3 linked regions of the Homo sapiens genome follow. The protein of the gene in region 1 interacts with the protein of each later gene in a pairwise test. Each region holds a gene or a part of one and is shown on either strand. Other genes may lie near its edges.

Region 1 (7,671 bases):
ACCTCTGGTCCCAAATACTTTGGAGGCTTAGGTAGGAGCATCACATGAGCCTAGGAGGTCAAGGATACAGTGAGCTGTGATAAGGCTACAGTGAGCTGTGATCTAGCCACTCCACTCCAGCCTGGGGGACAGAGCAAGACCCTGTCGCAAAATATATATATACATGTAAAAATGTAAAACTTCCGGCCGGGCGCCATGGCTCACGCCTGTAATCCCAGCACTTTGGGAGACCAAGGTGGGCGGATCACGAGATCAAGAGATCAAGACCATCCTGGCTAACACGGTGAAACCCCGTCTCTACTAAAAAATACAAAAAAATTAGCCAGGCGTGGTGGCCGGCGCCTGTAGTCCCAGCTACTCAGGAGGCTGAGGCAGAAGAATGGCGTGAACCCGGGAGGCGGAGCTTGCAGTGAGCCGAGATCGCGCCACTGCACTCCAGCCTGGGCAACAGAGCAAGAGACTCCGTCTCAAAAAATAATAATTAAAAAAATAAAAGGCCGGGCGCGGTGGCTCACGCCTGTAATCCAAGCACTTTGGGAGGCCGAGGCGGGCGGATCACGAGGTCAGGAGATCGAGACCATCCTGGCTAACACGGAGAAACCCCGTCTCTACTAAAAATACAAAAAATTAGCCGGGCGTGGTGCCATGCGCCTGTAGTCCCAGCTACTCGGGAGGCTGAGGCAGGAGAATGGCGTGAACCCGGGAGGCGGAGCTTGCAGTGAGCCGAGATGGCGCCACCGCACTCCAGCCTGGGCGACAGAGCGAGACTCCGTCTCAAAAAGTAAATAAATAAGTAAATAAAATAATAATAAATGTAAAACTTCCATCGAGCTGCACGGTTTTCATGCCCTTTACTGTAATGTTTTGCCTCAATTAAATACCTAATAATTGATGACGATGACGGCGAGCAATCACTGAGTACCAGGTTCTAGACAGTGTCCTTAGACCCTAATCCCCCAGCCTGGTAATGGCTGGTTCGTGTTACCTCCAAGGAACCGGGAACGCGTTTTTGCAAAGGACTGAGGCGCGTACTCACGCCTGCCGGGGAAGGAGCCCCGGGCTGGCTCGCGGGACTGGCCGGTAAGCGACCCACGTGGTGGCCCCGTGTCCCGAGCGCGTCCACGGCACAGAGGCACGGGCACGGCCGACGAAGGTGCCCCGGCCCCCTCCCGCGGCGCTCCTGCGAGAGCCCCGCCCATGCCCGCGGGAGAGACCGGCCAATGGACAGCCGGCCTGGCCCGGGTCACTCCGTGAAGGGCCTCGTCACCTAGGCTGACCACTCGCTTCCAATGGGTGAGCGGCCCGCGGCAGCCCGGGAACAGCGGCCTTGCGCCTGCGCTGCTCTCCCCTCTGGCGCATTTCCGCAGCGAGCGCTTCACTCCGAATGCCGGTTGGAGCCCTGCCAGCCAATCACCGGGGCGTCCCAAGGCCGGTAGCCAATGATCGCCCCTCTCCCCGCGCCGGGCCTCACCGATTGGCGCTGAGCTCCCGCAGCCCGCGGGAGGCGGGGGCGGATTGGCGAAGGTGCAGGCCAATGGGCGGCGGGCGCGAGGCGCTGGGCCAATGAGCGCCCCGGGGGCGGGGAGGGCGCCGCGGCGGGCGGCTGCGAGGAGCGGCCGGCGGGCGGCGGCGGCCGGCGGGCGGCGATGGCGGCGGCGGAGGCCGGTGGCGACGACGCCCGCTGCGTGCGGCTGAGCGCCGAGCGGGCACAGGCGCTGCTGGCCGACGTGGACACGCTGCTGTTCGACTGCGACGGCGTGCTGTGGCGCGGGGAGACCGCCGTGCCTGGCGCGCCCGAGGCCCTGCGGGCGCTGCGAGCCCGCGGCAAGCGCCTGGGCTTCATCACCAACAACAGCAGCAAGACCCGCGCTGCCTACGCCGAGAAGCTGCGGCGCCTGGGCTTCGGCGGCCCCGCGGGGCCCGGCGCCAGCCTGGAGGTCTTCGGCACGGCCTACTGCACCGCGCTCTACCTGCGCCAGCGCCTGGCCGGCGCCCCCGCGCCCAAGGCCTACGTGCTGGGCAGCCCAGCCCTGGCCGCGGAGCTGGAGGCCGTGGGCGTCGCCAGCGTGGGCGTGGGGCCCGAGCCACTGCAGGGCGAGGGTCCCGGCGACTGGCTGCACGCGCCGCTGGAGCCCGACGTGCGCGCGGTGGTGGTGGGCTTTGACCCGCACTTCAGCTACATGAAGCTCACCAAGGCCCTGCGCTACCTGCAGCAGCCCGGCTGCCTGCTCGTGGGCACCAACATGGACAACCGGCTTCCGCTTGAGAACGGCCGCTTCATCGCGGGTCCGTGCGCCCTGGGGCGGGAGGCTGGGGGGCGGGCGGCGGGCCCCCTCCCTGCCCTTTGACCCGGTCCCCTGTGCCCCGCAGGTACCGGGTGTCTGGTCCGAGCCGTGGAGATGGCCGCCCAGCGCCAGGCCGACATCATCGGGAAGCCCAGCCGCTTCATTTTCGACTGCGTGTCCCAGGAATACGGCATCAACCCCGAGCGCACCGTCATGGTGGGAGACCGCCTGGACACAGACATCCTCCTAGGCGCCACCTGTGGCCTGAAGACCATCCTGACCCTCACCGGAGTCTCCACTCTAGGGGATGTGAAGAATAATCAGGAAAGTGACTGCGTGTCTAAGAAGAAAATGGTCCCTGACTTCTATGTTGACAGCATAGCCGACCTTTTGCCTGCCCTTCAAGGTTAAAGATTGAGTGTCTTTAATCTGCAGAATAAAAAAAAAGAAATTGAAAACCAGTTACCCAAATTAATAGGTGGGGCTTAAGCATCTGCTCGGCTAAGTGGCTTCAAAGAGTGTAATTGGAGTTAAGCAAAGGCATTCATTGTTAACCTTGTAAGTACACGTTTGGGGGACGATTTTGTTTACAGATGCTTGTAATCGAAGATGCACTTTTAGGCTTGGAAGGCGTTGTGGGCTGGGTTCTGGGCCTTGGGTGGGGTTGGCAGGGGCAGGCTCTGCACCTGTCCGGGATTCAGGTAACCAGGGCCTGCCGATGGGACTGAGGCGGGTCTAGGGGTGTGTGTCCTGTATTTTATTGAAAAACTCATTCAGGGATCCAGCCCCTCAGGGGGCAGAGGGACTGATTATTCTGACTGTTGGGAGAGGCTTGCATGGACCAGAGCCCCATCAGTATGACTGAAAGTCCAGCGGAGCCTTCTGTGTCCCTGTGCCTCCCAGCAGGGTGGGAGTGGAGGAGGCGGCTGCTCCCAGGTGGCATCTCCCTGCCCTTGGGTGCAAAGTGCTGCCCTCACCACTCTCCCACCTCCCTTACTTCCTTGAAAACCACTCTGATGTCACAACTGAGTGTCTGTTCCGTTTCAGATACCCAGGGCTGCTGCCCAGTTCTGTAAACGCAGCCCAGCTAAAGCTCTGCTGTCTCAAGTGTGCATTTATACCCAGGTGATTTGGACGGAGCAGCTACCATGGCGTGGACGCCTTCACTGAACTCCGGGCTGCAGTGCAGGGAGCTCAGAGCAGTGCTGCTACCAGTTTTTAACTTTGAACAACTGTGTCAGGCAATGGATTTGAATTTTAAGTGTATTAATAGCTGTGCTCTGTGTCGTAGGCAAAATTCCACTGAAGGAGCCTCTGTGCCCTGCAGCCGGCAGCGCGGCTGAAGCATGTGTTGGCCAAGGAATGCCTGTCATCCAGGTGCCCTGCAGCCAGCAGCGCGGCTCAAGCATGTGTTGGCCAAGGAATGCCTGTCAGTCATCCAGGGCTCTGGGAGGGGACGAGAGTTATGTCCCCAAGAACAGGAAGTCCTTTACAAAGCATCCAGTCTCTTCCTGTCCTCCCCTTCCCTAGGCTGGGGTAGGGGTTAGAGACTGGTGGCCCAGGAGGTCACCTGCCTTGCCCTGGATTCCCTCTTCAGTGGCCAGCAGGACTTGGCAGGGCCACCAGCTCGCCAAGGTTCTGGGCGGGGCTCCAGCCTCTCCTGCCTGCTCCTTGGCTCTGCTGACCTTTCACAGGCCTGACAGCAGACTCAGCAGGGCCATCCCGGGATGCTGCACCTTCTGGCTGGCTCCCTACCAGCGCCTTTCCCTGTACCTGGCAGCTTCTCTCTTGGCCCCACAGTCACAGCACTCCACTTGGTCACAAAGACTTCAGAGCAATAAGAGGCGTCCTGAGCCTTCAGCACCTCCCAGGCCTGGGATATCGGGTTCAGAGGGTGCTGCAGAGCAGCATGAGGGTGGCTCCACCCATGAGGCTGGTGACACTGACGCTGGCTTGGCTAAGTTGGCTCAAGCCGGGTCTGGCCTGACAGGGTGCAGTCACACCAGGAGCGCATGGCAGATGCAGCCTCAGTGATGCCTCTCTTGCCGGGTAGGGGCTGGGAGTCCCCGTGCATCCTGTCTCTGGCCCATGAGGGGCTGCAGCACTGTGGGCGCCAGAGCACAGATTAAACTCTCAAACCCACACTGGCTCAGGTGTCCTTGCTCTCACCTTGCATTGGCCCGGGTGATGCCGTCTCACCACGGGTGGGAGGACTCAAAGTAGATGGGTAACTGGGGTTCCAACTCCAGAGCTGGAATGCCAACTGCCCACTCCCAGCCTGGTTCAGAGGAAGATGTTTTGAAGAATGAGGGAAAGCCAGGCACAAAGGGAAGCCAGGGAAGCAAAGGGCCCTGGAGTGAAGCTGGTGGGCTGCCGTGTCAGAGCGCCCAGGGCAGGGAGCAGAGCTCAGAAGTAATGCTGGCCCGGGCGCAGTGGCTCACACCCGTAATCCCAACGCTTTGGAAGGCTGAGGCAGGTGGATTACTTGAGATCAGGAGTTCAAGACCAGCCTGGCCAAAATGGTGAAAACCCATCTCTACTAAAAATACAAAAATTAGCGGGACTTGGTGGCATGTATCTGTAATCCCAGCTACTAGGGAGGCTGAGGCATGAGAATTGTGTGAACCCGGGAGGCAGAGGTTGCAGTGAGCTGAGATCACGCCACTGCACTCCAGCCTGGGGGACACAGCGAGACTCCGTCTCAAAAAAAAAAAAGTTGGGCTAGGCGGGCCCCCGAGGCTGGCCTGACTGTCCCAGGGGCACAGGCTCCAGCAGGCTGCCTGTCTGTGGTCCAGGCTTCAGGAACCCCCGGTCTTGGGTGTGCGGGGGCTGGGAAGTGGCTGGGGGTGCACAGTCCCACACCTGTCATTCACTGAACAGGCACGTATTGACAGCTTGTGGCGTGTCAGGCCCTGTGCCCAACTCTGGGAGTCAAGGATAACCTGACAGACTCAGGCCACTTTAGGAAAACGAAATCCACCCCAACCACACTTAGCGAGTCACCCTGGCCGGGCCTGGGCTGCCCTCCAGTCGGTCAGCCGGACTGGATTTCCACGCGGCCGAGCCCTACGCCTCCCAGACCCTGAGCTCCAGTCTGCACAGGCCAGGTGTCTGGAGCCGGGCCTGGTGACAGGCATCCCCCAGGTGGGAGGAGGGGCTGTCCTGGCTCTGACCTGGATATCAGATCCAGAGCTGAGGGGGAGGCGCAGGGTCAGGAGGGGAGGGGTTCTGTTCTGAGTTTCCCCTGGCCAAGGCTGCAGACAAGGGACGCAGACAATCGGCACATTGTGAGCAGGGGCTGCAGGATGGAACCAGCAAGCTGCTGTGCTGAGCGCCCCAAACCTGGGCCTACAGGGGTGAGTGCCTCCCGTTACTCCTGCAGCAAGGACCCAGGGGGTGCCCCAGGCCACCCAGCCCCTCCCTTCCCCAGCCCACTTGCTCCCTGATGTCTAACCCTCATGACCCTTCTGACCCTGATGCACGCCCAGGTGAAGACCAAGCCCTCCTGCGGGGGCTGGAGAGCCGTGAGCCTGCTCCTGCTGCTGCTGCTGCTGGTGCTGGCCGCTGTGGGGGTTGTGGCTGGAGGGCTTCTTGGCTCTGCTCAGGGCCCTCCCAAGGTGAGCCCCTCCTCAGCACCAGGGACATGGACAGTGGAAAGGGAGAAGGGAAGCTGGCATATCCCAGCCTCCAGCAGAGCAAGGGTGCGGAGCAGGCAGTGACACCACCTAGGAGCAGACAGCCAGAGGACCAAGGGGTGGAAGGGCCCACTCAGGGGTGTCAGGAGTCCTGCAGCCCAGAGCTGGAGGCTGTGCTGGGGTTGCACAGCTGCCCGGCTGAACTCCAACTCCCACTGCCAGCCAAGGCTGCAGACGCTGCGAATGACCCTCCCGAGCCCCCACATGCCCCGGCCCAACCAAACCATCCTGGTGGACGTGGCCCGGAACGCGGCGACCATCACAGTGACCCCACCTCAGAGCAACCACAGCTGGGCGGTGCTGTTCGACGGGCAGAGCGTGAGTGGGCAGGGAGGGGTCACCCTGGCAGGTGTCGGTCTGGGGGGCCCCGCCTCACCCCCCTGCCTCCCCAGGGCTGCATCTGTTACCGCCCTGAGGAGCACCAGGTCTGCTTCCTCCGCCTGATGGAGGACAGTGATCGGGAGACCCTGCGGCTGCTGGTGGATACCTCCAAGGTGAGCCGTCCTGCTGGGCGCAGGCCCGGGCCAGGGGCTAGACAAAGGGTCCTGTGTGCAGCCCAGTACGGGACAGGCTGGAGCTGTGGTTTCAGGGAACAGGAAGCTCTCTCCGCCCTAAGCCCAGGCTGCTGACAAGAGCTGAGGGTGGGGACATCACTGGGGGTTGGAGGGTACCCGGCCCTGCCAAGCCAGGAGCAGGGAGCAGCCCTGTCCCACCGCCCACCAGAGCCTTCTCAACAGGTCCAAGAGGCTTGGGTCCCCAGCCAGGACACCCACCACACCCAGGAGCTGCTGGCAGTGCAGGGGAGCCTCGAAGTGGACCCCGCCCAGGCGGGGGCTTTGGTGCAGCGCCTGTGCATGAGGACCCCCATCTACTGGGCCCGGCGAGCAGAGGGTGAGTCAGGACCGCTGTGGGGGAAGGCCAGGCCCTCGGGATGGTTTGAGGAGCTGGGGGCGGAGCCCTTGGAGATTCACGGCACCCTCGCCACAGGGCCCCGGAGACAGCGGCTGATTTATCTCTGCATCGACATCTGCTTCCCGAGCAACATCTGCGTGTCGGTCTGCTTTTATTACCTCCCAGACTGAGCCCCCGACCTGGCCCAGCCTGGCCCGTCCCCAATCCAGTGGGCTGGCCAGGCCACCTGCACCAGGGAGGACAGCTGCTGGCAGGGACTAATAAACCCTTCCACCTGGCCATGGTGGTGGTGTTCTCTATGGACCGAGGCCCTGAAACGCGGGCAGGGAGGGGCAGAGAACACACTAGCTTGGGGGTGGGCACCAGCCTCAGACCCCTCAGCAGCTTTGGGCCCTCGGCCGACTTTCCCAGGCAGTGCAGGCTAGCCCAGTCCAGGAGTGTGCAGCCTGGCTTGGGTCGAGCTCTGTCACATCTGGATAAGCAACTGGGGGCTGAGAGTCCCAGGGCAGCCTGGCCCAGCAGGTCAAGGCGCCACAGGGGGCCATCAGGTCCAGCTGGCGCAGGCCGGCAGGGGAGGGTCTGCTCTGACCTGGGTGCTGCATGGGTCCCTCCAGCTGCCACCACCTGCACCAGGCAGTCCCGAGGGGTCACAGGCTAGCCCAGCACACTGTCATTGAAGGCCAGGCAGACAACAGCCTTCTGGTGGCCGCCATACTCTCTCTTGATCTCTCCAGTCTCCACACACCAGAGCCGGGCCAGGTTGTCCGAGGAAGCTGGAG
Region 2 (8,243 bases), on another chromosome or scaffold:
GGCACGAGCCACCATGTCTGGCTAATTTTTTGTATTTTTAGTAGAGACTGGGTTTCCTCATGTTAGTCAGGCTGGTCTCGAACTCCTGACCTCAGGTGATCCATCCGCTTCAGCCTCCCAAAGTCCTGGGATTATAGGCATGAGCCACCGCACCTGGCTCGTCTTATTATTTCTATACATAATATATGCTCTTTTGGCTGGGCGTGGTAGCTCAAGCCTGGTGGCAGACGCCTGTAATCCCAGCTACTTGGGAGGCTGAGGCAGGAGAATCGCTTGGACCTGGAAGGCAGAGGTTGCAGTGAGCCAAGACTGAACCACCTCACTCCAGCCTGGGCAACAGAGTGAGAACCCATCTCAAAAAATACTGATAATAATAAGATCATCTTCAGAACTCAGTTCCTGGTGCATGAAGAGATTCAATACAGCCCCCTCACTCTCAGTTCTTAGAAAGAAGAATATGCCAGCCTGACCAACATGGTGAAACCCCCGTCTCTAATAAAAATACAAAAATTAGCTGGGTGTGGTGGCGCACGCCTGTGATCCCAGCTACTCAGGAGGCTGAGGCAGGAGAATCGCTTGAACCTGGGAGGTGGAGATTGCAGTGAGCCCAGCCTGGGAGACAGAGCAAGACTCATTCTCAAAAAAAAAAAAAGAAGAAGAATATGAAAGAGATAGGATCAATAACTACCTTCATTGTTTAATAGCCTAAGAGTGAAAGCCCAGCACAGTGGCTCACCCCTGTAATAATCCCAGCACTTTGGGAGGTTGAGTTGGGAGGATCACTTGAGCCCAGGGGTTCGAGAACAGCCTGGGCAATATGTCAAAAGCTCCTCTGTAGAAAAAATACAAAAATTAGCCGAGTGTAGTGGCACACACCTATAGTCCCAGCTACTAGGGAGGCTGAGGTGGGAGGATCACCTGAGCCTGGGAGGTCAAGGTTGCAGTGAGCCATGATTATGTCACTGCATTCCAGCCTGGGAGACAGAGCCAGACCCTGTCTCAGGAAGAAGAAGAAAAAAAAAAAAGCCAAATCTTTTTATCCCAGGATGTCTGAAAAGGACAGAGTCTATGGAGCATGGATGCAGAAAAGTAGTTATTCCTACCAGAAAAAAAAAAAATGAAATGTGGACACAGCCACTCAAGATCAGAGACTCAACCAGTGAAAGCAATTAGCTTCAATTTCATTGTCACCAGGAGGGCGCACACCAGAGAACCTGGGAGAAAGCCTGGGCTAGAGCCCTTAGCATTCTCAGTGTTACTGGTGCTGTGGTTCAACAACCTTTGTGGGAATGAGGAGAACCAGAGACCATCACCATCACACGTAAAAAGGATCCTATAGCAACAATGTGGCTGTCAAAAATCAGCTGGAGGCCAGGCGCGGTGGCTCACGCCTGTAATCCTAGCACTTTGGGAGGCCGAGGCGGGCGGATCACCTGAGGTCAGGAGTTTGAGACTAGCCTGGTCAACATGGTGAAACCCCGTCTCTACTAAAAATGCAAAAAATTAGCTGGGTGTGGTGGTGCATGCCTGTAATCCCAGCTACTTGGGAAGTTGAGGCGGGAGAATCACTTGAACCTGGGAGGCAGAGGTTGCAGTGAGCCCAGACTATGCCACTGCACTCCAGCCTGGGTGACAGACTGAGACCCTGTCTCAAAAAAAAAAAAAAAATCAGCTGGAGCTTAAATTATACATTGTTTGCAATCCAGACTGTACTTGCTTTCTTGTCAATGGCTTGAGATATGTGCAGAGGCCCCTTAAACATGTGTAGGTGACCTTTCTCTGTCGCCCAGGCTGGAGTGCAGGGGCACAATCTCAGCTAACTGCAACCTCCACTTCCCGGGCTCAAGCAATCCTCCCGCTGCAGCCTCCTGAGTAGCTGGGACTACAGGTGTGTGCCATCAAGCTTGGCTGATTTTTTTGTACTTTTTTTTTTTTTTTCGAGATGGAGTCTCGCTCTGTCGCCCAGGCTGGAGTGCAGTGGCGCAATCTCAGCTCACTGCAAGCTCTGCCTCCCGGGTTCACACTATTCTCCTGCCTCAGCCTCCCAAGTAGCTGGTACTACAGGCGCCCGCCACCATGCCCAGCTAATTTTTGTATTTTTTTTAGTAGAGACGGGGTTTCACCGTGTTAGCCAGGATGGTCTCGATCTCCTGACCTCGTGATCCGCCCGCCTCGGCCTCCCAAAGTGCTGGGATTACAGGCGTGAGCCACTGCACCTGGCCGATTTTTTGTATTTTTAGTAGAGACAGGGTTTTGGCATGCTGCCCAGGCTGGTCTGGAACTCCCGACCTCAAGGGATCCGCCTGTCTAGGCCTCCCAAAGTGTTAAGATTACAGGTGTGAGCCACCACGCCTGGCCCAGAAATACTCTTTTTTTTTTTTTTTGAGATGGAGTCTCACTCTGTTGCCCAGCCTGGATGGAGTGCAGTGGCGCGATCTCGGCTCACTGCAAGCTCCGCCTTCTGGGTTCACGCCATTCTCCTGCCTCAGCCTCCCGAGTAGCTGGGACTACAGGCACCTGCCACCATTTTTTTTTGTATTTTTAGTAGAGACGGGGCTAATTTTTTTTTGTATTTTTAGTAGAGATGGGGTTTCACCGTGTTAACCAGGATGGTCTCGATCTCCTTACCTCGTGATCTGCCCGCCTCAGCCTCCCAAAGTGCTAGGATTACAGGCGTGAGCTACCACACCTGGCCCAGAAATACTTCTTTATCAGAAATATTACTGGCGGGTGTAGCAGGGCACGCCTATAATCCCAGCACTTTGGGAGGTCGAGGCAGGCAGATCCCTTAAGCTTAGGAGTTCAAGACCAACCTGGGCAATATGGTGAAAGCCGTCTCTACAGAAAATTAGCCAGGCACAGTGGTGTGTACCTGTGGTCTCAGCTCCTAGGGAGGCTGAGGTGGGAGGATCACTTGAACCCAGGAGGCTGAGATTGCAGTTAGCTGAGATTGTGCCCCTGCACTCCAGCCTAGGCGACACGGTGAGACTCTGTTTCAAAAAACAAAAAAGAAATATGACTTATTTACAAATATTTCTTTCTTTTTTATTTTTAGAGACAGGGTCTCACTATTACGTAAGTATTATAAATTATATATATATGTTTGTTTGTTTGTTTGTTTTTCTGAGACAGAGTCTTGCTCTGTCACCCAGGCTGGAGTGCAGCGGCACAATCTCCACTCACTGCAACCTCCGCCTCTTGGGTTCAAGTGATTCTCCTGCCTCAGCCTCCTGAGTAACTGGGACTACAGGTGCCCGCCACAATGCCCAGCTAATTTTTTATATTTTTGGTGGAGATGGGGTTTCACTGTGTTAGCCAGGATGGTCTCGATTTCCTGACCTCGTCATCCACCTACCTCAGCCTCCCAAAGTGCTGCTAGGATTACAGACGTGAGCCAGTAAGTCCGACATCTTTTTTTTTTTTTTTTTTTTTTGTGGAAACAGGGTCTCACTGTGTCTCCCAGGCTGGAGTGCAGGGGCACAATCTCGACTCACTGCAGCTTTGACCTCCCAGGCTCAAGCGATCCTCTCACCTCAGCCTTCCAAGGAGCTGGGACTACAGGCACCAGGCCCATGCTACTGGTCCCTGCTGTTTACAAATACACTAGACTTGGGTTTTAGCTGCTCTCTCAACACCAGGTGGGAAATGGATTGTTCGGAAGGTAGAGGAATAGAGGAGGGACCTGCTTAGGAAGGTGGGGGTGCTCTAGATGAGAGAGGAGGTGCTGTGACCTCAAGGTCTGGGGAAAGTGGGTGAGTGCAGGGCCCCATCAAGGCTCTCAACAAGGCCTCTCTCTCTGGAGCTCAGATGTGAAGCCCAGAAGGCAGGTCAGAGGCCTGAGGTCAGAGGCAGGTCAAAGGTGGGGGTCCCACCTGGTCCCCTTGGCGCCTTCCCTTGGAATGCAGTGACCAGCTGCCTGGAAGGGTGGGCAAGGGGACAACAGGATGGGGTAAAGGCCAGTTACAAGTAGAATCCTGGAAGGCCGGGCGCAGTGGCTCACGCCTGTAATCCCAACACTTTGGGAGGCCAAGGCGGGCAGCTCACTTGAGGTCAGAAGTTTGAGACCAGCTTGGCCAACATGGTGAAACCCCGTCTCTACCAAAAAGTACAAAAATTAGCCGGGCGTGGTGGCACATGCCTGTAATCCCAGCTACTCGGGAGGCTGAGGCAGGAAAATCGTTTGAACCCGGGAGGCAGAGGCTGCAGTGAGCCGAGATCCCGCCACTGCACTCCAACCTGGGTGACAGAGTGAGACTCTGTCTCAAAACAAACAAACAAAAACCAAGTAGAATCCTGGATAGACAGTGGCTCAGGGACTCAGCTGTCCCCAAATCACCTACCTTAGCTCTTTGTGCAGGGGATGGGGGATCCCCAAGATCTTCAAAGATAGGGAGGTATCCTCAAGATCTTCAAAGGTGGCCAGGCGTGGTGGCTCACGCCTGTAATCGCAACACTTTGGGAGGTCAAGATGAGAGGAGGCCATCTTAAGGCCAGGAGTTCAAGACCAGTCGGGGCAACATAGCAAGACTCTGCTTCTGTTTCTGTTTTTGTTTTTGTTTTTTAATGTTTCCTCGAAATCCCACCTTAACATCTACACAATGGTGCCTACAGTTTTCCCCATTAACTTCCTCTCTGGGGACAGAATATTCCCCTACCCACCTAAGTTCAGCCAGAAGGAGATGCCTCATCCCCCCCACCCAGGCTTCCCAGTGCTGAGAACAAAAGAAACCAGTTTAGTTAGCATTTCCTGTGAATTCAAATGGGGGCCAGCAGTGCAACTGGGACCAGCCCATTCCCTGGGGGAGACTCAGCAGTGCTGGCCACTTTGCAGAGCCCCGTCTGGGTCCCCCACCCTGGCCCCCAAGGGCCACAGCATCCCCTTCCACCCACAGGCCTGGGCAAGGTGCAGTCCCCAGACTTCTGCAATCTTAACCGCTGTGCTTCCGTCGCAGTGGGAGGCCCCGCCTTTTCCCCTGCCTGCCCTTCGGGCACCTCAGGAAGGCACCTTCCTCTGTCAGAATGGCCACCATGGTACCATCCGTGTTGTGGCCCAGGGCCTGCTGGACTCTGCTGGTCTGCTGTCTGCTGACCCCAGGTGAGACCAGTCAAGCCGGGGAGGGCTGGAGAGGGCTGCGTTTTGGGGATCAGTAGAGGGTAGAGGAATAGAACGCAACGCTGTTCACATCCTGCCACACTGCGACCTGGCCGCTGACTCTGTATCCTCGGGAGAAAGTTCTGGTTCCTTAGTTCAGCCTTCAGGTGGTCAGGCCCCAGCATAGGCTTGTACGCCATCCCTCTCCCCTAACACACACACACACACCCCTCATGCTTCCTGCTCCATCTGAACTCCTGAAATTTGCCCTTTGCGTATGTGCTTCCCTCTGCCAGGATCACCTGTCCCTTTCACTTGCTAACTCCTACTTAGCCTTCAGTTTCGGGCTGCAATGGTCCCCGCTTCCAGGAAGCCTTCCCTGACTCACCTCCTCCTATGCTGGATCAGAGCCTCTTCTGGCCTCCTTCTGAGTTCTCCCCGGTCTCTGATGGATTCTACCTTTCCCACTGGACCATGAAGGCAGGAACCCTTCTGTCTCGGCACAAGGAGAGAGGTGTTAAATGGTGGGGCCTGTTGATGCGTGGGTTGGGGGACAAGGAAACAAACACCAGGACTTCTTCATGTTCCTGAAGGTGTCCAGGGGCAGGAGTTCCTTTTGCGGGTGGAGCCCCAGAACCCTGTGCTCTCTGCTGGAGGGTCCCTGTTTGTGAACTGCAGTACTGATTGTCCCAGCTCTGAGAAAATCGCCTTGGAGACGTCCCTATCAAAGGAGCTGGTGGCCAGTGGCATGGGCTGGGCAGCCTTCAATCTCAGCAACGTGACTGGCAACAGTCGGATCCTCTGCTCAGTGTACTGCAATGGCTCTCAGATAACAGGCTCCTCTAACATCACCGTGTACAGTGAGTCGACGTGTCCGGAGGTGGGACTGGTCTTGGGTAGTGGTGTGGGCAAGTGGCCAATGGCTCAGGAGAGTGGGGACCCTCAGTTTGCAAAGAATGGACCACAGTTCTGACCCAGAGCTCAGACCTGGACATTTGTGTGTGAGATACAAAGATAGACAGAGACAGAGACACAGAGACAGAGACAGAGATATAGAGACGCATCTCAATCTCATGCCAAGGCAGCAGTTGTGAAATCAATTAACTTGGGCCCCAACAAGCATTTTTTTTTTTTTTTTGAGACAGAGTTTCGCTCTTTTTGCCTAGGCTGGAGTGCAGTGGCACGATGTCGGCTCACTGCAACCTTCGCCTCCTGGGTTCAAGTGATTCTCCTGCCTCAGCCTCCCGAGTGGCTGAGATTACACATGCACGCCACCACACCCAGCAAATTTTGTATTTTTAGTTGAGATGGCATTTCACCATGTTGGCCAGTCTGGTCTTGAACTCCTGACCTCAGGCGATCCGCCCACCTCAGCCTCCCAAAGTGCTGGGATTACAGGCATGGGCCACTGCGCCCGGCCCCAACAAGCTTTTTTTTTTTTTTGAGATGGCGTCTCTTACTCTGTAGCCCAGGCTGGAGTGCAGTGGTGCAATCTCGGCTCACTGCGACCTCTGCCTCCCAGGTCCAGCTAATGCCCAGCTAAGTTTTGTATTTTTAGTAGAGACGGGGTGTTCCGCCCACATCAGCCTCTCAAAGTGCTGGGATTACAAGTGTGAGCCACTGCGCCTGGCCCCAACAATAATCCCAACACTTTGGGAGGCCAAGGCAGGAGGATTGCTTGAGTCCGGAAATTTAAGACCAGGCAGAGCAATATAGGGACACCCCGTCTCTACAAAAATAAATAAAAAATATTAGCTGGGCATGGTGGCACATGCCTGAAGTCCCAGCTACTTGGGGGACCAAGGTGGGAGAATCGCTTGAGCCCAGGAGTTCAAGGCTGTAGTGAGCTATAATTGCACCACTGCACTCCAGCCTGTGCAAAAAAGCAAGACCCTTGTCTCTTAAGCAAAAAAGGGGGTACCCCTTTCAGTCAGCAGTAGGCAAATGGAGGTTTTACATTTACACTTTTTTATACCTTTATTTTAGAGACAGGATCTCCCTATGTTGCCTAGGTTGGTCTCAAACTCCTGGGCTCAGGCAATCCTCCCACTTCAGTCTCTCCAGTAGCTGGGATTGCAGGCCTGGCTACTTTTTTTTTTCTTTTCTTTTCTTTTTTTTTTTTTTTGAGACAGAGTCTCACTCTGTCCCCCAGGCTAGAGTGCAGTGGCGCAATCTTGGCTCACTGCAACCTCTGCCTTCCGGGTTCAAGCGATTCTCCTGCCTCAGCCTCCTGAGTAGCTGGGATTACAGGCGCATGCCAACACGCCCAGCTAATTTTTGTATTTTTAGTAGGGACAGGATTTCACCATGTTGCCCAGGCTGGTCTCAAACTCCTGGCCTCAAATGATCTGCCCGCCTTGGCCTCCCAAAGTGCTGGGATTATAAGCGTGAGCCACCATGCCTGGCCTACTTTTTGACTTTTCTTTTCTTTGAGACGCAGTCTTGCTATTGTCCCCCATGCTGGAGTACAATGGCGCGATGTCAGCTCATTGCAACCTCCGCCTCCTGGGTTCAAGTGATTCTCCTGTCTTAGCCTCCTTAGTAGCTGGGATTACAGGCGTGTGACACCATGCCCGGCTAATTTTTGTATTTTTAGTAGAGACAGGGTTTTGCCATATGGGCCAGGTTGGTCTCAAACTCCTGACCTCAAGTGATCCGCCTCCCTCGGCCTCCCAAAGTGGTGGGATTACAGGCATGAGTCACCTTGCCCAGCCTTTTTTTTTTTTTTTTTTTTTTTGACATAGAGTCTCTCTCTGTCGCCAGGCTGGAGTGCAGTGGCACTATCTCAGCTCACTGCAAATTTTGCCTCCTGGGTTCAAGCGATTCTTGTGCCTCAGCCTCCTGAGTAGCTGGGATTACAGGCACGTGCTACCATGCCTGGCTAATTTTTGTATTTTTAGTAGAGATGGGGTTTCACCATGTTGGCAAGGCTGGTCTTGAACTCCTGGTCTCAGGTGATCCGTCCACCTTGGCCTCCCAAAGTGCTGGGATTACAGGCATGAGCCACAGTGCCCGGCCTGAGGCCCAGCGTTTTGTAGGTGTACTGGGGAGGGCACCCAGCCTGGGAGTGTCAAGTCTCCTGTGACTGTGCCGGAGTATCTTGAGAGGCTGCCACAGGGCTGGTGAACCAGGAAAGCCCTGAGTGTCTGAA
Region 3 (5,481 bases), on another chromosome or scaffold:
TAATTCATGGAGCATTATTTTTCCTGAAAATTCAATGGTATATTATTCTGAGAAAAAGATTACAATGGGAGATGAGGGTTTGGGGTCCAAGTTTCTCTGTATGATTCCTGTGCATTCAGGTTCTCTTGTCTGTGAATCTTCTAAACGACTGTATCCACCTCTCCTTTCGCACTGTTCCCATTTCTCTCCCTGCAGATTTACCATCAGCTCCAGAGAAGCTCATTGTTGGGATCCTGGGAATTATCTGTCTTATCTTAATGGCCTCTGTGGTAACGATAGTTGTTATTCCCTGTAAGTCTATTTTCGAAGATTACAAGGGGAATTTTCACGTTAATGATTGAATGTGCCTCTAAACATTTCATATTTTCAGGGAATAGAGTTCTCATTGTAATGTATATATTTGGACTAAATGTGGAATGATTATTCTGAATTTGTCAAAGAATAAATGAAAGAATAATTGTTGAAAGTATTCGCTTCTGATGCAATCGTATGTATATATTTGGATTTCATAACTCAAAAATATGTTCTAGGAGTCTGAAAAACCTTACTGAGAAATAGAAATTAATTTTTGAAAGTAGTTAAATCAAGAATTATAAGAACTATATGAGATGGTGAAATTTGGTTCTTTAGATCTATGAAATACTTTTCCAAAAAACCACCATTACTTTATCAAATTTTTCTTAAAATCAATTTTATTCCATATTATTCTAACTCTAAATAATACAAAAAAATTCAAACAAAAACTTAAAATTATTATGATTGATTTAGATGCTAATTTTTTTACAAAGATTACTTTAATTTTTCTAGCTACATTAATACAGAGGCACAACAATTCTTCCCTGAATACAAGAACTCAGAAAGGTATATAATAATTTTTAAAGTTTTAATATTGTACAGTTTATTTTTTCTTGATCTTAGGCTGTACAAAAATAAAATTTTGGGTGAAAAATTATAAAATTTGGCAATAAGTGTTCATAAATAAAATTAGAGTAAGGCATTCACTTGTCATCAACTATAAGTAAAATCACTATGCTTTCTTTTTATCTGTTGTGTTCAAATTCTTACTGCTATAATATGATAAGATACAAGTTATTTATTGTTCCTTAAAAATCAGATTAGTTCATTGATTTTTCAAGACATGTATAGAGTGGATTTTTGTTTGCTGGTTTGCTTTATATGGGAACACAATTAGGAGATGAAAGGCTGACCCTTTATTGCGCATGTGTGTATAAGTGACTGGGTATTTTGACACTATATATTTACCAGCCCATGAAGATGTATAGATATGTTGCATACGTATAGGTTTATATGTTTGCAAATATGTGAACTAATTTTCATTTTTAAAAATTCATATTGGTCTAGATAGTAATTCATATCTTTATTTAGCACGTCATTGTGGCCATTGTCCTGAGGAGTGGATTACATATTCCAACAGTTGTTACTACATTGGTAAGGAAAGAAGAACTTGGGAAGAGAGTTTGCTGGCCTGTACTTCGAAGAACTCCAGTCTGCTTTCTATAGATAATGAAGAAGAAATGGTAAGATGTAAATGTTTTAAACACTTTATGAAAAGCTTCTTTCGGTCGATAATATATTTGTAGAAATCATCCATATGTGTGGGTATATACATTTAGCTTATATGTTTTCAAGTTTATGTAGTATTTAATTGATTGACTTAATAATGTTTTAAAATTCATATACTGCTAATGTACTTTTGATTATTTTCAGTTTTTGCTTTTCATGGAAAACCATGCTTCTAGAAATGCTTTCAATCCACAATACATTTTGCTATCTAATTTTATCGGGCATGATGTGATCTGGTCATGCAGATTGATCACAAAGTGAATGAACTCCTGTGATACAAGTCAGATCATGAAATAAAAGTTTCCAGCTCTAGTAGTTCCACCCCTGTGTATGCCCTCATCACTTATCCTGACTCCTCTCCAAAACACTGTCTTGACTTTTAATGTTATAAATAACGTTTACCTGCTTTTGAATTTATATAAAGGGAATCATACACTGTGAATTTCATGTCTGTGTTTTTCACTCCTATCTGATATTTATGCAATTCCTCCATATTATTGCGGTTATCTGTCGTTTATTACTGTTCACTGCTGTAGTATGTACAAAGAACACTAAGAATCCATTCAATCCTGTGTCTCTGGATGGGGAAGTGAGTCTCATGCCCTCAGGGACAAAGAGGACCCTGGGTGGTGCACTGGTAGTCATTGGGTTCCTTTGCTGATCCTCCTCACCCACATCCACTCTGGTGTCTCTTGGTATGAGAAGGAAGTACTTCCTCTGGCTGTATTGGTAGCAAGTCTCCTGGTAGATCATCCTTGCCAGTGGTACCAGCCTTGCCTGTTGTTGCGGAGGGGACTCCCCTTCAATACAGAACAGGAGTGAGCTTTGCTGGGCCTCCTCCTATTGCCAGGTTGGGTGTAGGGAAACAGCAGGCCTAGGTCACCTTCTTCTGTCGTGTGGAGGACTTAACATGCTCGCTCGGACACTTGGTTGATCCCTGATGCTAGGGTCCCAGACAATTTCATCTTTCTCTTTCCACCTTTCAGAGTTCTCCATTGCTTTTGTCTTTCATTAATCCCAGAGTTTATAGTTGTTTTTAGTAGGGAGTAGCAGAGAGAGACGAGTCTACACCACCTGGTCAGGATCACTGTTATTCCACCAAAACCAAATCAGATAAAAAAGTGAGGGCTTATCTAGTTAAAGAATGGTGTGGTACCCAGAAAACCCAATATGTAGCTTCCATGTCATTTATTTCTGAATCACAACCTCTAATTTCTCTTCTAAATCTCCAACTCTGAGAAATATAGCACAAAAATAGTTTGATTTAGTCACAGTATCTGGAGGAATGAATGCACAGTATCAGGAGACTTATTTAAATCCTTACTGTGTTTATTCAGTCAATTGGGGTAACTATTATAATGCAAGAATTAAAACTTCTTTATTAACATGAGAAGAATAAAAGTACTAAGTATAAACATTGACGGGTTCATTTATATCAAAATTATAAACATTTATGAAAGTTTTTGGCACTGCAAATAGTGGTTTTCAAATTTAATATATTGTTTTTGTAATGTTTTCATAATTATTATTTAAGTGAAAATTCTTTCTTTTCTTTTAGAAATTTCTGTCCATCATTTCACCATCCTCATGGATTGGTGTGTTTCGTAACAGCAGTCATCATCCATGGGTGACAATGAATGGTTTGGCTTTCAAACATGAGTAAGTTGTTTTGTATGGCGCTATATAACAATATATATATAAAGGATAAATTCAGAAGAATAATATGAATAAATCTATGTGGAATCATAGAGATGAAGAAAGATGTGGAAAGTTAGTGAAATGCTGACATAAATATTTTACAATAGACCATAGTAGTCCATATATTTCAACCGCTCATTGGTCAGCTAGTAACCTTCTTGATTATCAGGTGTCCAATCTTTGGCTTCTGTGGGCCACATTGGAAGAAGAAGAGTCTTGGGCCACACATAAAATACACTAACACTAACGATAGCTGACGAGCAAAAAAAAGAAAAAAAAAATCACAGAATGTTTTAAGAAAGTTTACGTATATGTATTGGGCCGCATTTGAAGCTGTCCTGGGTCACATGCGGCCCGTGGGCAGCGAGTTGGACAAGCTCGAGCTGGACTATCAGGGAATTGCAGTGCTTGTTTTTATTAAAAAGCCACACTTACTTTTTTTCTTAAGAATATCCTCAAAGCACAAGAGTAGTGCTGTTGGCATATTGCTATAATTTTGTTATTAGTAGTTATTGTTGTCAATCTCTTATTGTGCCTAATTTATAAATTAAATTTTATCACAGTTATGAATGTGTAGAGAAAACATAATCTCTCTATAGGTTCTGCACTATCTGCCGTTTCAGGCATCCACTGGAATCTTGAAACATATCCCTCGTGGATGAAGGGGGACTACTCTGTTGAGTGTTCAGAATAATGACTCTTACTAATATTATGAAAAATTTAATTACCCTTTTCCATGAAATTATTTTCTTACAGTACATGGAAAATGCTTTCGTCTCATGAATCATTTGCTTAAAATGTAACAGAATATGGATTTTTCTCCATTACAGGATAAAAGACTCAGATAATGCTGAACTTAACTGTGCAGTGCTACAAGTAAATCGACTTAAATCAGCCCAGTGTGGATCTTCAATAATATATCATTGTAAGCATAAGCTTTAGAGGTAAAGCGTTTGCATTTGCAGTGCATCAGATAAATTGTATATTTCTTAAAATAGAAATATATTATGATTGCATAAATCTTAAAATGAATTATGTTATTTGCTCTAATAAGAAAATTCTAAATCAATTATTGAAACAGGATACACACAATTACTAAAGTACAGACATCCTAGCATTTGTGTCGGGCTCATTTTGCTCAACATGGTATTTGTGGTTTTCAGCCTTTCTAAAAGTTGCATGTTATGTGAGTCAGCTTATAGGAAGTACCAAGAACAGTCAAACCCATGGAGACAGAAAGTAGAATAGTGGTTGCCAATGTCTGAGGGAGGTTGAAATAGGAGATGACCTCTAACTGATAGAACGTTACTTTGTGTCGTGATGAAAACTTTCTAAATTTCAGTAGTGGTGATGGTTGTAACTCTGCGAATATACTAAACATCATTGATTTTTAATCATTTTAAGTGCATGAAATGTATGCTTTGTACACGACACTTCAATAAAGCTATCCAGAAAAAAAAAAAAAGCCTCTCCTGGGATTATTTGTGACTGCATTTATTCTCTAAAGTAATTTTTAAAGATTAGCTTCTTTATAATATTGACTTTTCTAATCAATATAAAGTGTTTCCTTCAATGTACTGTGTTATCTTTAATTTCTCTCTATTGTATTTTGTATTTTGGGGGATTGAAGTCATACAGAAATGTAGGTATTTTACATTTATGCTTTTGTAAATGGCATCCTGATTCTAAAATTCCCTTTAGTAATTTTTGTTGTTATAAATAGAAATACAACTGATGTCTGCATTTTGATTTTATATCTACTTATTCCACTGATTTTATATATGTAAATCTATTATGTCAACTATTGATTTATTTCTGGGTGTTCTATATAACGAGCAATTTTATCTGCACATGATCACACTTTTATTTTTTTAATCTATATGCTATAACGTAGTTTTATTTTCATTTATTTTCACTGGCTAGGGTTTTATACCCATAGTTGAATAGAAGGTACAATCAAAGTTCTGTGTGTATCATATGTATCGTTTTCTGATTTTGGCAAAAAATACTTAAACATATTATTCATATTTACAAAGCTTGGTGTTGTTTTCATCCTATCTTTCTCATATCGAAGCAGTTTTATAATATTCCTATTTTCTAATAGATTTTATCAATTGTAACATTTTTATTAATTTGTAGCAGTTGGAATGATATATGTTGTATTTATATAACATTTTATAAACTACTTTTATTTTTTCA

Evidence for each region. Proteins that work in one complex are often made in the same cells at the same time.
Region 2: the proteins of BRICD5 (region 1) and ICAM3 interact in binary tests that used the Homo sapiens proteins (3 or more experiments, as listed by UniProt).
Region 3: the proteins of BRICD5 (region 1) and KLRC1 interact in binary tests that used the Homo sapiens proteins (3 or more experiments, as listed by UniProt).

Annotation. Positions count from the first base shown.
Region 1 is NC_000016.10:2,208,753-2,216,423, reverse strand, and holds BRICD5 (BRICHOS domain-containing protein 5), read left to right. Parts: upstream 1-5,560; 5' UTR 5,561-5,590; coding exon 5,591-5,641; exon of another isoform or gene 5,642-5,730; coding exon of another isoform or gene 5,731-5,773; coding exon 5,774-5,902; intron 5,903-6,142; coding exon 6,143-6,298; coding exon of another isoform or gene 6,299-6,372; coding exon 6,373-6,474; intron 6,475-6,717; coding exon 6,718-6,871; coding exon of another isoform or gene 6,872-6,967; coding exon 6,968-7,062; 3' UTR 7,063-7,171; downstream 7,172-7,671. Other genes in the region: PGP (glycerol-3-phosphate phosphatase), read left to right, coding at 1,647-2,286, 2,371-2,696; MLST8 (target of rapamycin complex subunit LST8), read right to left, coding at 7,547-7,665.
Region 2 is NC_000019.10:10,336,391-10,344,633, reverse strand, and holds the start of ICAM3 (intercellular adhesion molecule 3 isoform 1 precursor), read left to right. Parts: upstream 1-5,009; 5' UTR 5,010-5,019; coding exon 5,020-5,095; intron 5,096-5,388; exon of another isoform or gene 5,389-5,685; coding exon 5,686-5,952; intron 5,953-8,243. UniProt on the Homo sapiens protein: ICAM proteins are ligands for the leukocyte adhesion protein LFA-1 (integrin alpha-L/beta-2). ICAM3 is also a ligand for integrin alpha-D/beta-2. In association with integrin alpha-L/beta-2, contributes to apoptotic neutrophil phagocytosis by macrophages.
Region 3 is NC_000012.12:10,445,294-10,450,774, reverse strand, and holds the end of KLRC1 (NKG2-A/NKG2-B type II integral membrane protein), read left to right. Parts: intron 1-195; coding exon 196-291; intron 292-807; coding exon 808-861; intron 862-1,386; coding exon 1,387-1,538; intron 1,539-3,142; coding exon 3,143-3,243; intron 3,244-4,112; coding exon 4,113-4,224; 3' UTR 4,225-4,747; downstream 4,748-5,481. UniProt on the Homo sapiens protein: Immune inhibitory receptor involved in self-nonself discrimination.